Homo sapiens: one gene and its partner. The protein of the gene in region 1 interacts with the protein of each later gene in a pairwise test. Each region holds a gene or a part of one and is shown in the gene's direction. Other genes may lie near its edges.

What was found. The genes of interacting proteins can lie anywhere in the genome.
Region 2: the proteins of FAM167A (region 1) and PRKCG interact in binary tests that used the Homo sapiens proteins (3 or more experiments, as listed by UniProt).

What each region holds. Positions count from the first base shown.
Region 1 is NC_000008.11:11,456,754-11,463,753, reverse strand, and holds part of FAM167A (protein FAM167A), read left to right. Parts: intron 1-7,000.
Region 2 is NC_000019.10:53,892,175-53,899,208, forward strand, and holds part of PRKCG (protein kinase C gamma type), read left to right. Parts: intron 1-334; coding exon 335-469; intron 470-813; coding exon 814-901; intron 902-1,187; coding exon 1,188-1,217; intron 1,218-5,784; coding exon 5,785-5,937; intron 5,938-6,265; coding exon 6,266-6,454; intron 6,455-7,034. UniProt on the Homo sapiens protein: Calcium-activated, phospholipid- and diacylglycerol (DAG)-dependent serine/threonine-protein kinase that plays diverse roles in neuronal cells and eye tissues, such as regulation of the neuronal receptors GRIA4/GLUR4 and GRIN1/NMDAR1, modulation of receptors and neuronal functions related to sensitivity to opiates, pain and alcohol, mediation of synaptic function and cell survival after ischemia, and inhibition of gap junction activity after oxidative stress.

The sequences.
Region 1 (7,000 bases):
GGACCAAGCCCCCATTTCTTCAGTGTGGCCGGAAGTTCCCTCCAGGGCATCCTGATCCAAAGGTGGAAGCTGGCAGTAGATGCCCAAGGGCTCCCTCGCAGGGCTTGTCCCTTGGGCATCCCTAGAGGGACAGGCCCAGGTCAGACCCCATTTTCCAGGTCCAGTGGCAGGTATGGAAAGAGCCTAGGCAGTGACTTGTGCACTGGCTACAGTTCCAGGCCTTCTCGAAGGCTGGGCAGTGTTTCCTCATTCCAGGAAGCCAGCGGAGCCTCTGCGAGCTGGCTGGGCACAGCAGCCCCTAGGTCAGCAGGCTCATGCTTAGGGTGGTGGCCACCCAGGAAGGTTCTGGATGAGGGTCTTTGCCTTAGGGACCTGGCCCCCACTGTCCACCATCAAGTTGAAAGTGACACTACCTCCCTAGTCTTGTGATCAGCTCCACGCACTTCGCCCTGGAAGTCCCATGCCAGGCGTGAACTGACCTAAGTCCCTCCAGTCACAAAGGCACTTCCCAAATTTGGTTGTGTGGCTGCTGCTATTTTGTTTATTTGTTTGATAGCAGCCACTGAAAACTTGGAGGAAGGTGAAGCCAGCCTCATTATCAAGTTTGAATGAAAGCAGCCTCAGAGCAAATTCTGCCAGACGTACACATTTTTGGACAAATATTTACCTGAAACAAGTCCAGCGGAGTCCATACAGCCTGTCCTGTGGGCTCGGTGAAGCCCAGCAATCTGCTCTCTGCTGCCCTGACCACACCTCCCTGGAGCTCTCATGGATTCTTTTACCTGCTCTTTCCTGAGTCAAGAGTGTCTCTGAATTCATTTAGCCAACCCACACATCTTGAATACCTCTGTCTTTACCAATGAGAACGCATTTCTAATATTTACTTTGCTAATCATCAAATGCCCAATGCTGACCAGAGATAAAGACGCTGAAGTGCCTGTCCCTGCTGCCTCTGGAGCAGATGCTTTCTGCTTCGAGGCAGTGGCTGCGAGTGGGGTAGGGGTGGGCGTTGCTGATTTGAATACATCTAGGTTGTAGCTGGCATAATGAAACCACACAGAACAGCCCACCATCTCTGCAAAGGAGTTTAGGATCCAAATGCACCACCCTACCAAGGAAGCAGAAGGTGAAGGCCGTGCCCTCAGGGAGCGTGCAGTCTGGCGAGGTTGCTGATGCAGTAGAGTCCTGAGCTCACAGTAAAATGCTGTTCTGCACGCTTCAGTTAACTTTCGCAGTGCAGGAGCCATTTCCCAATTCGATGGACCAAGGAGAGTGACAGCCAAGCACAGTCAAGAGCAGGAGGTGACAGTCGTATTAGAGGTGTAACTAAAAATTCACGTAAACTTGATCTCATTTGGTCCTTCCAAGACTGTGAGGTACGATCCATTACAATCCTGTTTCATGGATGTGGAACCTAGGCCTAGGAGGGTTGAATCTGTTGATCAAGGTCATAGAACTAGTAAGTGGCAGGCTGGCTGTCAACCAACCCACGTCCCCCGACACCCGGCTCTGCCCTGTTCTAACTTGCTCCATCCCTTTCTCCTGCTCCTGATTCCTTTCCTCTGCGAGGTGTGAACCCGGGAGGCTTCAGCAGCCAAGTACCTCCAGCGCAAGCTGACACGGCAGGGAAGCAAAGTCACACATCCCATTTTCTGCCCTGCCTGCGGGCACTCAGGCCATATGTCCCTGCCAAACCCCAGTGCAGGCACAGCGCTGCACCTGCAGCCACTTACAGGCTGCACTGGGCAGTCCAAGCCAGGCTGAGGCCACACTGGGACCCCACTGCGTCCAAACACCAGGAAACCCTAAGGACCCTTCTAGCCCCTGAGAGGTCAGGACCCCCAGCCCGAACGTGGAGGTGCCCAGTTGGCATAAGCACAGGGAACACCGTGAAAGGCCTTACGAAGCCTTTTAGAAACTCTGGGCTTTGGAACTTGTGCTGCAGAGTAAAATAGAAATCAGATCATCTGGACAAATCCCCCCTTGAGCTGGCGTTTGTTGATTCTGCCTATTTTCAACTTGGAGCCAATTATCCTGTGGATTCAAATAGTCCTAGATCTGCCTTGTTTGGAGGCTGAGGCCAATGCCAGCTGGTTAGGAGCCACTCTGGTGGGCTGAAGCCACAGGGGAGGGCACACATCCCCCGTGTCCTTAGCTGTGCCCTGGTGTCTGAGTTTCAGCCAGCTGGGAAGTGTTTCCTGTTTGTATAGCCAGGGTACCGGCCTGCGCTGCATTCTGCTTTCATCTCTGCAGATTGCTTTAAAGGCCACTCTGTGTCTACTTTCTGCCCTCTAATCCCCACTGCCACCATGGCCTTTGGCCAGAAAAGCCCTGGGTCTCATGTGGCGGTTGGCGGGGCGGCAGCAGGCTGCCTTAGCCCGTCTGGGCATCCCTGCCTTGTCGAGCGTTTCCCGGGAGGAAAACCACATCCTTCTCTTTTTTTCCCATGGCTACTTTCCCCCTCCCCATCTCCTCCAAACTGTCAGATTCTCAGGCACCTCTTCCTGCCTGCCAGGGCCGCCCTTTCCCAGAGCCCCGCAGCCTTGGAAGGGACACACCAGCGACTGGGCGTCCCAAGAGCCCCTCTCCCTGCAGTGGCCCTGGGCTTTCTCCCCGCCTTGCAGGGAGCCCATAAATTAGATCTGTGGCTCCCAGGAGCCAGGGCCTCTTTCTGACCAACAGGGAAGCAGTATTTCTTGGCAATTTTCTCAGCAGCCTCTTTCACCGGGCTAAATGAAAAGGAAGGTTTCCGCGCTCCCAGCCTTCCTGCAGGAGGACTGTGCGTCAGCTTGAAGCAGCCTGAGCCCATCAATTATTCAGCATGGACCCAGCACTTTGAATTTGCAAAGGTCTTAAGTATTTTTATAGATTCTTTTCTCATAATGTCCCAGCGAGACAAGCAAGGTTTCCCTGTTTCCTAGACAATAGATGCAGGGTTCAACTCGGAGTCAGAAGACTTGGGTGCAAGCGCAGCCAGCGCCACTCATGGAGCTGTGGGACCTGGGGCAGTTCTTTCGATGGCTCTGGTGTGCAGTTCTCTGTGGTATAATTCTTAGGAAGGCCTCCCTAGCCCAGGTCATTGTGTGTGTGGGGAAAAAAATTTGCAAATGCAGTGTGATTAAAAAATGCATGTGGTTGCTCTTGTTGCACCAGGTGTGGAAACGGAAGCTTCTATCCTGAGCTGAAGTGCAACCATTAGCATAGGACACTGCAAACCGGGCTCTGCTGGGAGACAGTCCCCAGGGAAACGTGGGCGAGTCGGCGCCTCTACTCCCTGGCCCCGTGGGGGTGGCTCCATGACATGGTGGTCCCACTACCTGCTGCTGTGGGCTGACTCTGCATGTGTCAGGGTGGAAGAGGGCACGGAGGTCATCACACCCAAACCAATGGCTTAGGGTGGGATGGGACCCCAGTAGCTGACTCCCAGGTCGGGAACTCTTTTCTCTTCCACACCAGGCTGGCTCTGTCCAAAATGTTTCTCCCGCTCCCATCGGCAATGCTGGGACCCCAGGCAGGAGGCACCGAGGGCTGCCTAAAGCCGGAGTGTTAGGGCAATCTACGGGTGCAGCCCACTAGGGCGCCTGCCCCTCCCAGAGCCCTGTAGTGGGTTTCATGCCATGTACCCATCCTCTCACACTGGTGGCCCCAGCATCACAGCTGTCCCTGGGACTGGCCCAGGAGCCACCTCCATCAACCAAAACAAGCAGACAAATGAAATGAGTCCCTGGCCTGGTGCGGTGGCTCACGCCTGTAATCGCAGCACTTTGGGAGGCCGAGGCAGGCAGATCACCTGATGTCAGGAGTTCAAGACCAGCCTGGCCAATATGGTGAAACCCCGTCTCTACTAAAAATACAAAAATTAGCCAGGTGTGGTGGTGGGTGTGGTGGTGGGTGCCTGTAATCCCAGCTACTCAGGAGGCTGAGGCAGGAGAATCACTTGAACCTTGGGAAGCAGAGTTTGCAGTAAGCCGAGGTCGTGCCGCTGCATTCCAGCCTGGGTGAGAAGAGCAAAACTCTGTCTCAAAAAAAGAAAAGAAATGAAATGAATCCCTGTTCCAGTTGAATTCCAAAGAGTCGTGTGACTTGTCCAGCGTCACAGGTTGTTAATGGCAGAACTTCCCTTAGGCTGAGGTCCCCTCACTGCCCAGCCCTGCCCAAGGACTAAGACCCCAGCCCCGGAAAGAGGCCCTCCTGCCACAGCAGCTGTACTCACAGCACCCACGTGCTTGGCACTGCAGACCGAGGCGCTCGGTCTCTTCTTCCTCTTCTGCCCAGAACAATTTTACAGAAAAACAAAGCATTGCCTTGGGAATATTTCAGTGTTATTTGCCCCTGAGGTTTCTAGGAACACTGGACTTGTAAGTACTATAAAGCTCACATGCCTGTTACTTCTGTGCAAATGGAGCCACCTGAAAGATGGTCACAATGGTGGAGTTGGGGAGACTTGAGCTGGAATGGTGGTTCCTTCCCTGACCTGCTTGTGAACTGTGGTTTCCTTGCCTGCAGTAGAGATAATACGAGACACTAGATAATACCAGTCATGCCTCAGGGTCATTTCAAGGGCTAAACTAGATATTGCACAGTGCCTGGCACAATAAAAAAGGTCTCCTCTTTTCCTCCTCCTTCTAACAATTTTCATTTATTTCTGTATAAATGAGAAATAGAGAAATGGGTGATAGAGAGAAAAGTAGTCATTCATGCGTTTATTTTATTATCAGAAAGTATGTGTTGAAGTTGTACTGGTTATACCCAGCAGGTGGCCATGAGCAGCAGGGGGAAGAACTGGGGGCGAATTCGCCCTCCTGAAGCCCAGGCTAGTGTGGGCAGTGCCGTTCCAGCCTCTCTTGATGGCAAGAGAATCTTCTGGTGCATTTCACTGGGAAGTTCAGCTCTTTAGGTTCTGCTGGGCCTAAGGGCTCAGAAGATGTCAGGATGCTCTCTCTTTCTCTCTCTTTCTGTTTTTTTTTTCCCTTAGTTCGCCTTACCTCAGGCTTATTCCCTTTTTACTACAGACGGGCTTTCTCCAGACTCTGGAAACTCCAAGCTTATATCCTCCCAGCTGAGCTGCTCCTGATGAAAATACCCTATTTCTCCAAGTGTCTGTGTTTAAATCCCATGAAAATATTCTGATTGGTCTTTTGTGGCCCATTGCACATCCCCAGGCCCAGTCACTATTGCCAGAGTAAGGGCTAAAATGAACGTCTCTTTCTAGGTGTCGTGAGTGTTCCTGGGGCAGGGGTGATGGGCAGGTGCTGTGACTCATGGTCCCTTCAGAACCACCTGAAATTAGACAGGAGTGATGCCCACAGAAGGGATGCTGGAAAAAGATAGATCTGTTCACCCGAGAGGCACATCAGAAATGTGACTCAGTAAAACCATCCAGCAGGTGCACTGCTGCACTGAGAGTGGGCAGGAAAGTGCTCAGATCCAAGTGTGAAGGGAGGAAGCCATCAGCTCCATTCGGAAGAGCACAAAAGACTGTCGAGTGAGGTGCTGTTTGATCCAGGCTTGAAGACTGAGTCAAATTCAAACATAAGGCTATCGCGGAAGGATGAGACATAAAGTTGAGACCAGCATCCCAAACCACCCCATCTCAACTCAAGAAAGATGACTCAGCCACCAGAAGCATTCTGACTTTGAAAGTCTTACCCATGAAGCTGTGGGAGGTCTGCTGGGGAGATGTCATCTGGAGCTGTGAACGACTCTGGCTGGACTTTGTTCGCTGACTTCACCGCATCAGCGTCATCAGCACACACTGAACATCTGCTGTTTACAGGGCCCTGTGCTCGGGACACAAAAGGTGCAGCAGTGTCCTGCCCCTCAAGGAGCTGATGTCTGGTCAGGAAGACAGGACCACAGACTCCCACAGTTCAAGGTCATGCGGGCCAGTGTGCAGTCAGCATGAGGAAAGCAAGTGACTGGAGAATTCAGAGAAAGGTGGCCTGGAAGGTGGGGAGTGTGAGAGGGCTTCAGGGAGGAGGCGAGCCCTCGGATGAGCTTTCAGGCAGTGCAGGGCCTAGCTCGCCAGTGAGGGCCAAAGACAAGGACAAAGGGCCAGATGGACTGCCCAGAAAGTCCTCTTCATTCATTCATGTACCCACTCTCTTACTCAGCAAGTTTCCTGAGCACCCGCTGTGTGCCGGGCACTGCTCTGAGTGCCGGGGTCACAGTCAGGAACAGAATTCGGAAGCCCCTGCCTGCTAGGAGCTGGCATCCTCAAGGGTGGGACACACAGACACCAACAAACATCACGGAGTAAGTGATGAGCTCCGGAAGCACCAGGAAGGCGAGCGCTGGGCTCCATCCTGTGGCCCAGGCTGGGGTTTGCGTGGAGATGAGGTTCAAGCAGAACCAGGCATGAAGCAGCCAGCATATGACATTGTGGCACAGCATCAATGTCCTTCAGAAGAGACTGCCGAGTTCTCACAAGGGTGTGCAGCAGGGAGGGGAAACCCCGGCAGCAAACAGGAGGCTTCCAGGAAGGGGGAAGGCTAGTGCTGTCCTGGCTGGACATGTGCCAGAGGGAATGCTTACCCGGCAGGGTAGACCACAGGGGTGCTTGGAGAAAACCCCAGGAGCGCTGTCCTGTGGAGCCCTGATCCCACCCACACCCCTAACCCAGCCCCGCCCACTTCCCCAACCCAGCCCCGCCCATTTCCCCAACCCAGCCCCGCCCACTTCCCCAACCCAGCCCCACCCACTTCCTTAACCCAGCCCCGCCCATACCCCTAACCCAGCCCCGCCCACTTCCCTAACCCAGCCCCACCTACATCCCTAACCCAGCCCCGCCCACTTCCCTAACCCAGCCCCGCTCATACCCCTAATCCAGCCCCACCCACTTCCCGAACCCAATCCCCCCATTTCCCTAACCCAGGGCCCAACTCACTTCCCTAACTCAGCCCTGCCCACTTCCCTAACCCAGCCCCACCCACGTCCCTAACCCAGCCCCACTCACTTCCCTTAGCCAGCCGCACTCCCCTAATCCAGCACCACCCACGTC
Region 2 (7,034 bases), on another chromosome or scaffold:
AGATCAGTTGACAGGAAGACAGAGTGATAGAGACCCAGAGAGGAGAGAAGGGTACAGAGACTCAGAGAGAGAGATCTCGAGAGACAAGAGACAGAGATGGGAAGGGGCGGAGAATGCAGGAGGAAGGGAGAGGAAGAGCTCTCTAGGTTTACTTCAGGCCCCAAAGCCCTAGCTGGAGAGAGAGCCCGGCTGGGAAGGTCAGAGGTCGGAGACCGACAAAGCAGGAGAGGAGCCCCAGCTGGCTGGGTTTGCCCCCACCTCCAGCACCAAGGATGGGGAACCGAGGGGAGCCATGAGCTCGGCTCTGCACCCCATCCACCCCACCTTCCTGCAGCAACCTGAAGCCAGGGGATGTGGAGCGCCGGCTCAGCGTGGAGGTGTGGGACTGGGACCGGACCTCCCGCAACGACTTCATGGGGGCCATGTCCTTTGGCGTCTCGGAGCTGCTCAAGGCGCCCGTGGATGGCTGGTGAGGAGCAGGGCTGGGGCCTGGGGATGGAGCGCAATATTACCATCTCCATCTGTGTGTGGTCTCTCTCCTCCAGGCCACTGTCCTTCCCTCTGCCTCCCAGCATGCGCACACACACACACACACACACACACACACGCACACACACGCACACACCCCTCTCTCTCTATTCTTCTCTTCTTCTCCCCTCCCTTTCTCCCTCTCCCTCTCTTTTTATCTCACTCTTTCTCTCTTCCATCTCTGTGTCCGTCTCTCTGTGTCTCTTTCCTCCCTTCCAATGTCTTTGCCTCTCCCATGGGTGCCCCATCCCCGCTGCCCGCCTCTGGTCTCCGTCTGTATGTCAGGTACAAGTTACTGAACCAGGAGGAGGGCGAGTATTACAATGTGCCGGTGGCCGATGCTGACAACTGCAGCCTCCTCCAGAAGTTTGAGGTACCCAGACCCTGGCTTCCTCAAGGGAGCCCAGCCCAGCCTCCCACGGTTCAGAGCTGGCCTTTCCTTCCACCCCTGAGTGCCCGCTGGTCCTGGGACTACAGTTCCCAGAAGACCCTAGGACTCCCTCCTCTGCTCTTCTAGGGGACTCGAGCCCCAGGGTCTGATGGGAATTATAGTTCCTATCTATCGCCATGGCTTGAGGGTACTAGGGGCCACCAGCCCCTGTTCTAGGGCGATCCCCTGCATCTCTTGGGACCCTGACTCTCTCTTTCTTTTCTCCCAGGCTTGTAACTACCCCCTGGAATTGTATGAGGTGAGTAGAACCAGGGCGTTGAATGGAGGCAGTTTTTGCCTACTTCTCTGATTTCTTATTCCTCCTCTGACTTCTGTCTTCAATTCCCCACACATGAGTTGAGCACACATTTGTGCTAGGCCTGTCTTGTGCTTGCTGAATAATCCAGGATCCAGAGATGAATCTGACCCTCAAGCAACTCTCCAAGGTAGGGACACAGTCACAGATACTTAAAATACAGGAAGATGTGCTAAATTAGAGGTAGCCCAGGGCACTGAAGAGGCCTAACGGAGGCACTAATCCAGCCTGGGGGAGGGTGGTCAGGGAGGACTTCCCTGAGGAGGTGACGCCTGAATTGATTCTTGAGGTTTTTTAAAATTTTTTAATTTATTTTTATTTTTATTTTTATTTTTATTTCTGTCGCCCAGGCTGGAGTGCAATGGCACAATCTCGCCTCACTGCAACCTCCAGCTCCCGGGTTCAAGCAATTCTCTTGCCTCAGCCTCCTGAGTAGCTGGGATTACAGGTGACCGCCACCACACCCAGCTAATTTTTTTTTTATTTTTAGTAGAGATGGGATTTCGCCATGTTGGCCAGGCTGATCTCAAACTCCCAAACTCAGGTGATCCGCCTGCCTTGGCCTCCCAAAGTGCTGGGATTACAGGCATGAGCCACTGCGCCCGACCGATTCTTGAGTTTTTTATTTTTTTTTTGAGACGGAGTCTCGCTGTGACGCCCAGGCTGGAGTGCAGTGGTGCGATCTCGGCTCACTGCAAGCTCCGCCTCCTGGGTTCACGCCATTCTCCTGCATCAGCCTCCTGAGTAGCTGGGACTACAGGCGCCCACCACCATGCCCGGCTAATTTTTTGTATTTTTAGTAGAGATGGGGTTTCACCGTGTTAGCCAGGATGGTCTCGATCTCCTGACCTGGTGATCCACCCGCCTCAGCCTCCCAAAGTGCTGGGATTACAGGCGTGAGCCACCACACCCAGCCGATTCTTGAGTTTTAAAAAATCTATCAAGCATGATCATCTTAATCTCTCCATTCATTCATTCACTCACTGAATATCCTTCTTTTTCTTTCTTTCTTTCTTTCTTTTTTTTTTTGAGACAGAATCTCCTTTTGTCACCCAGGTTGGAGTGCAGTGATGCAGTCTCAGCTCACTGCAACCTCTGCCTCCCAGATTCAAGTGATTCTCCTGCCTCAGCCTCCTGAGTAGTTGGGATTACAGGAGCGCACCACCACACCTGGCTAATTTTTGTATTTTTAGTAGAGATGGGGTTTCGACATGTTGGCCAGGCTGGTCTCGAACTCCTGACCTCAAGTGATCCACCCGCCTTGGCCTCCCAAAGCGCTGAGATTAGAGGCGTGAGCGACCACGCCCAGACGAATACCCATTTTCTAGGGTGTCATAAGCCAGGCCCTGTTCTGGGAATAGAATCAGGCCATTCCCTGGTGGAGCTCTTCTTCTAGTGGAGGACAAAGTTACAAACCCAGACATTCACAACGAGGAGCAATGCTGCTGTAATGGAGACAGCCTCAGGCACTGGGGCGTCCCTGGCACAGCCTGAGTCAGAGAAAGCTTCCTAGAGAGGTGAGACCTGGTAGAAGGGCGGGATTTCCCAAAGGAGAGACCAGATTTTCAGGCAGGAGGAAGTAATGCTCTCTCCCTCATTTACCCTTTCAAAAAATACTTTACAGAGCATCTTTGTGTGCCAGGCGTGGCTCTACTCACTGGGGATATAGAGAAAGCAGGGAAAGAACAAACAAACAAACAAAAAAGTTCCTTTCCTTATGGGATTTACACCGGGAGGAAGACATTAAACAAAATATATAAGCATATGATAGACTGGGCACGATGCCTCATGTCTGTGATCCTAGTAAGGCGGGCGGATCACCTGAGGTCAGGAGTTTGAGACCAGCCTGGCCAGCGTGGCAAAACCCCATCTCTACTAAAAAATACAAAAATCAGCTGGGCATGGTGGAGGCGCCTGTAATCCCAGCTACTCGGAAGGCTGAGGCAGGAGAATTGCTGGATTCCGGGAAGTAGAGGCTGCAGTGAGCCCAGATCGCTCCACTGCACTCCAGCCTGGATGACAGAGGGAGACTCTGTCTCAAAAAAAAAAAAAAAAAAAAAGAAGACAAGAATCTTCAAGATTCAACAACAGCAACAACATGTTATAGTCTTTACTGGACTCTTACAGAAACTTTCACCAGAGTTTTTAATGTTGTGTGTGGGGGTTCACCTGCATCAGAATTCCTAGAGTGCTTGCTTTTAAAAGCACATTCCCCAGCCTTTCTGCAGACCTACTCAGTGACGATCTCTCTGATGCCTCAAATGTCTGCCTACTAAATTAATTCCTCAGGTGATCCTTTTGCAAAGTTAAGTTTGAGAATGGGCTCTGCGGCCGGGCGCAGTGGCTCACGCCTGTCATCCCAGCACTTTGGGAGGCCAAGGCGGGTGGATCACGAGGTCAGGAGATCGAGACCATCCTGGCTAACACGGTGAATCCCCGTCTCTACTAAAAATACAAAAAAATTAGCTGGGCGTGGTGGTGGGTGCCTGTAGTCCCAGGTACTCAGGAGGCTGAGGCAGGAGAATGGCATGAACCTGGGAGGTGGAGCTTGCAATGAGCCGAGATCGTGCCACTGCACTACAGCCTGGGTGACAGAGCGAGACTCTATCTCAGAAAAAAAAAAAAAAGAGAGAATGGGCTCTGCAGGAGACAAGGGTACCAGCGGGAGGACATTCTGAGCCAAAGAGGTAGAGTCTTTTGAGATCAGCAGGGATGATCCTCCCGTACAAACCCAAGAAACCCAGCAGGGCAGATGGTGGGCAAAGGCCTAGAGGCAGGGAGTGTAGGGTGGTGTGTGTGCCTGTTGTGGCTCACAGCACTCTCCCACAGTTCAGCAGGCACCACTTAATATTACCAATGAACACCAACTCTGTGCCAAGCCTTGAGCTAGGTACGGGGCTAACAACACAGCAAACAGAAACAGCCCTGATTATTATTATTATTATTATTATTATTATTATTATTATTATTATTATGTATTTATCTATTTGAGACACAGTCTCGCTCTGTCGCCCAGGCTGGAATGCAGTGGAGCGATCTCAGCTCACTGCAACCTCTGCCTCCCGGGTTCAAGCGATTCTCCTGCCTTGGCCTCCCAAGTAGCTGGGACTACAGGCATGTGCCACCATGTCCTACTAATTTTTATATTGCTAGTAGAGATGGGGCTTCGCCATGTTGGCCAGGCTGGTCTTGAACTCCTGACCTCAGGTGATCTGCCCACCTCGGCCTCCCAAAGTGCTGGGATTACAGGCATGAGCCACCGCACCCAGCCCTCAACAAATATTTATGTAGCCTCAATGAGGTAGGCAGTGTTACTGTGTCTTAGCGAACAAAGCAGACCCCTGCCTTAGGGAGCTCACAGGCAGAAAGCAGATAGTCACACAGATAGATGTAAATTACTAAGAATAAAAGTGCCAGGAAGGTGCTGTCCATGGTGACCAAGGGGTGGTAAGAGAGGCATCTGACCCAGTTTAAAAAGTCAGGCGAGGCCTCTATGAAGTGATGCTTGAGTCAAGGTCTAAAGGGTGTTTGGGAGACAACTAGGAGGGAAGGGGAGGGGAGAGCTTTACAGGAAGACCTAACGGCACATCCAGAGGCCCTGAGGTGGGAGGGAGGACAATGAGTGTCAGGCCAGGGTGGCTGGACCATGGAGCCTGGGAGAGAGAAGAACAACCTGCAGTGTCAGTCTCAGCCTGGCTCTGCAAGTCATGTGGAATAAAATCTTAACACAGAGGGAGCAGTTAAAGGGTTTACAAGCATAGGGGAGACATGACCTGGTTTATTTATTTTTAAATTGGCTCCTGTGCCTGCTGAGTAGAGAATGCATTAGAAAGGGCAGCCGTCCATGTAGAGGGACAAGTGTGGAAGCTGTGACAGCAGCTTAGTCTTGGGCCCCCTCCCTGGGGGGCCGAGGCAGGAAAAGGTAGAGAAGGGACCCTAGCTGAAAGCCAGGTGTGCTCCCTGGACTGGCAGCACCCATGTCACCCAGAAGCTTTTTACACATAACGATTCTCAGGTCCCACCCCAGATTTATAGAGTTAGAAAATCTGGCAGTGGGACCCAGCAATCTGTTTTACCAAACCCTCTAGGGAATTCCGGCTTAGAGGCTAAGAGCAACCAGATTCTAGAGCTGGACTGCTTGGGTTTCATTTCTGGCTCTGTCCTTTACCTGCTGTGTGACTTGGGGCAAGTTACTTAACGTCTCTGTGCTAGTCTCCTCTTCTGTAAAATGGAAACGATAGCAGGGTTTTCTGGAAACAGCATATGATAAGCTATCTAAAAAAAAAAAAGAAGAAAAAAAGAGCTAAGTGTTTGTTGAATAATAAATAAACCCTCCAGGCTATGGGGAGTCAGAGAAAATTAAGCCAAGGACAGGGTAGGAGGGTGGCCATTTTCCTCTGTCTAGCGATTCTCATCCTTTCCTTTCTTGGGTGCTGTGTCTCTTGGGAGCATTTCCTTATCGCTGTGTAAGGTCTAACTGCCTCTGGCTCTTTCTTTCTCCTTTCCACAGCGGGTGCGGATGGGCCCCTCTTCCTCTCCCATCCCCTCCCCTTCCCCTAGTCCCACCGACCCCAAGCGCTGCTTCTTCGGGGCGAGTCCAGGACGCCTGCACATCTCCGACTTCAGCTTCCTCATGGTTCTAGGAAAAGGCAGTTTTGGGAAGGTTGGATTCCTGGGGTTCTGGGGGAAAGGGAGGATGTCTGTGGGAAGGTCAGATTTCTGGTTCTTAGGGAGGAAGTGGGGGTGGGAAGAGACTGGGCTCCTGCATCTTCAAATATGGTTAGGTTGGGCCGTTCAGGTTCCTGGAGAGGAGAGGTTTACAGATGTGGACACTCTCCTTGAGGGGACGGGCGGCAAGTCAGGGCTGTCAGTCCCTTAAGAGATGGAGGAAGGGCCTGGGATCCCGTTTCCCTGCGTCCCTTAGGGAGGGGGCAGGTCCTGTACCACTGGGTTCCCAACATGGACTGGCCCTTTTGGAACTGTGCGCATAGGTGATGCTGGCCGAGCGCAGGGGCTCTGATGAGCTCTACGCCATCAAGATCTTGAAAAAGGACGTGATCGTCCAGGACGACGATGTGGACTGCACGCTGGTGGAGAAACGTGTGCTGGCGCTGGGGGGCCGGGGTCCTGGCGGCCGGCCCCACTTCCTCACCCAGCTCCACTCCACCTTCCAGACCCCGGTAAGGATGGAGGGGGCGGAGGCTGTCCTCCGGGCCCTGCCTTATCCAGTTCTGGACATCTGCGTTGGGATTCTGAGTTTAGGGCGAGGCAAGAGAACTTTGTGCTCTCTGAGTGGGCGAGGCCAGGCGGATTGTCTCCTCAGGGGGCGTGGCCGGGGGGGGGTCCTTGGGGGGCGTGGCCAGGCGAAGGGACTCATCGGGGGGCGTGGCCAGGCGGAGGGGCTCAACGGAGGCGAGGCCGGGTGGAGGGGCTCCTCGGGGGCGTGGCCAGGTGGAGGGACTCATCGGGGGCGTGGCCAGGCAGAGGGGCTCTTCGCGGGGCGTGGTCAGGCGGATGAAATCTTTGGGGGGGTGGTTTAGAGGGGCGGGCTTTGTCAGGCGATGGGATCATTAATAGGCGTGGCCAGGCAGATTGGCTCCTTGGGGGCGAGGCCAGGCAGACGAGATTATGAATGAGCGTATCCAGGCAGGTAGATTCTTCGGAGGGCGTGGTCGGGCGGATGAGCTCCTCGGGGGCGTGGCCAGGCGGTGAGTTCCTCGGTGGCATGGCCTGGCCAGGTGAATGGGTCCTGCGGAGGTG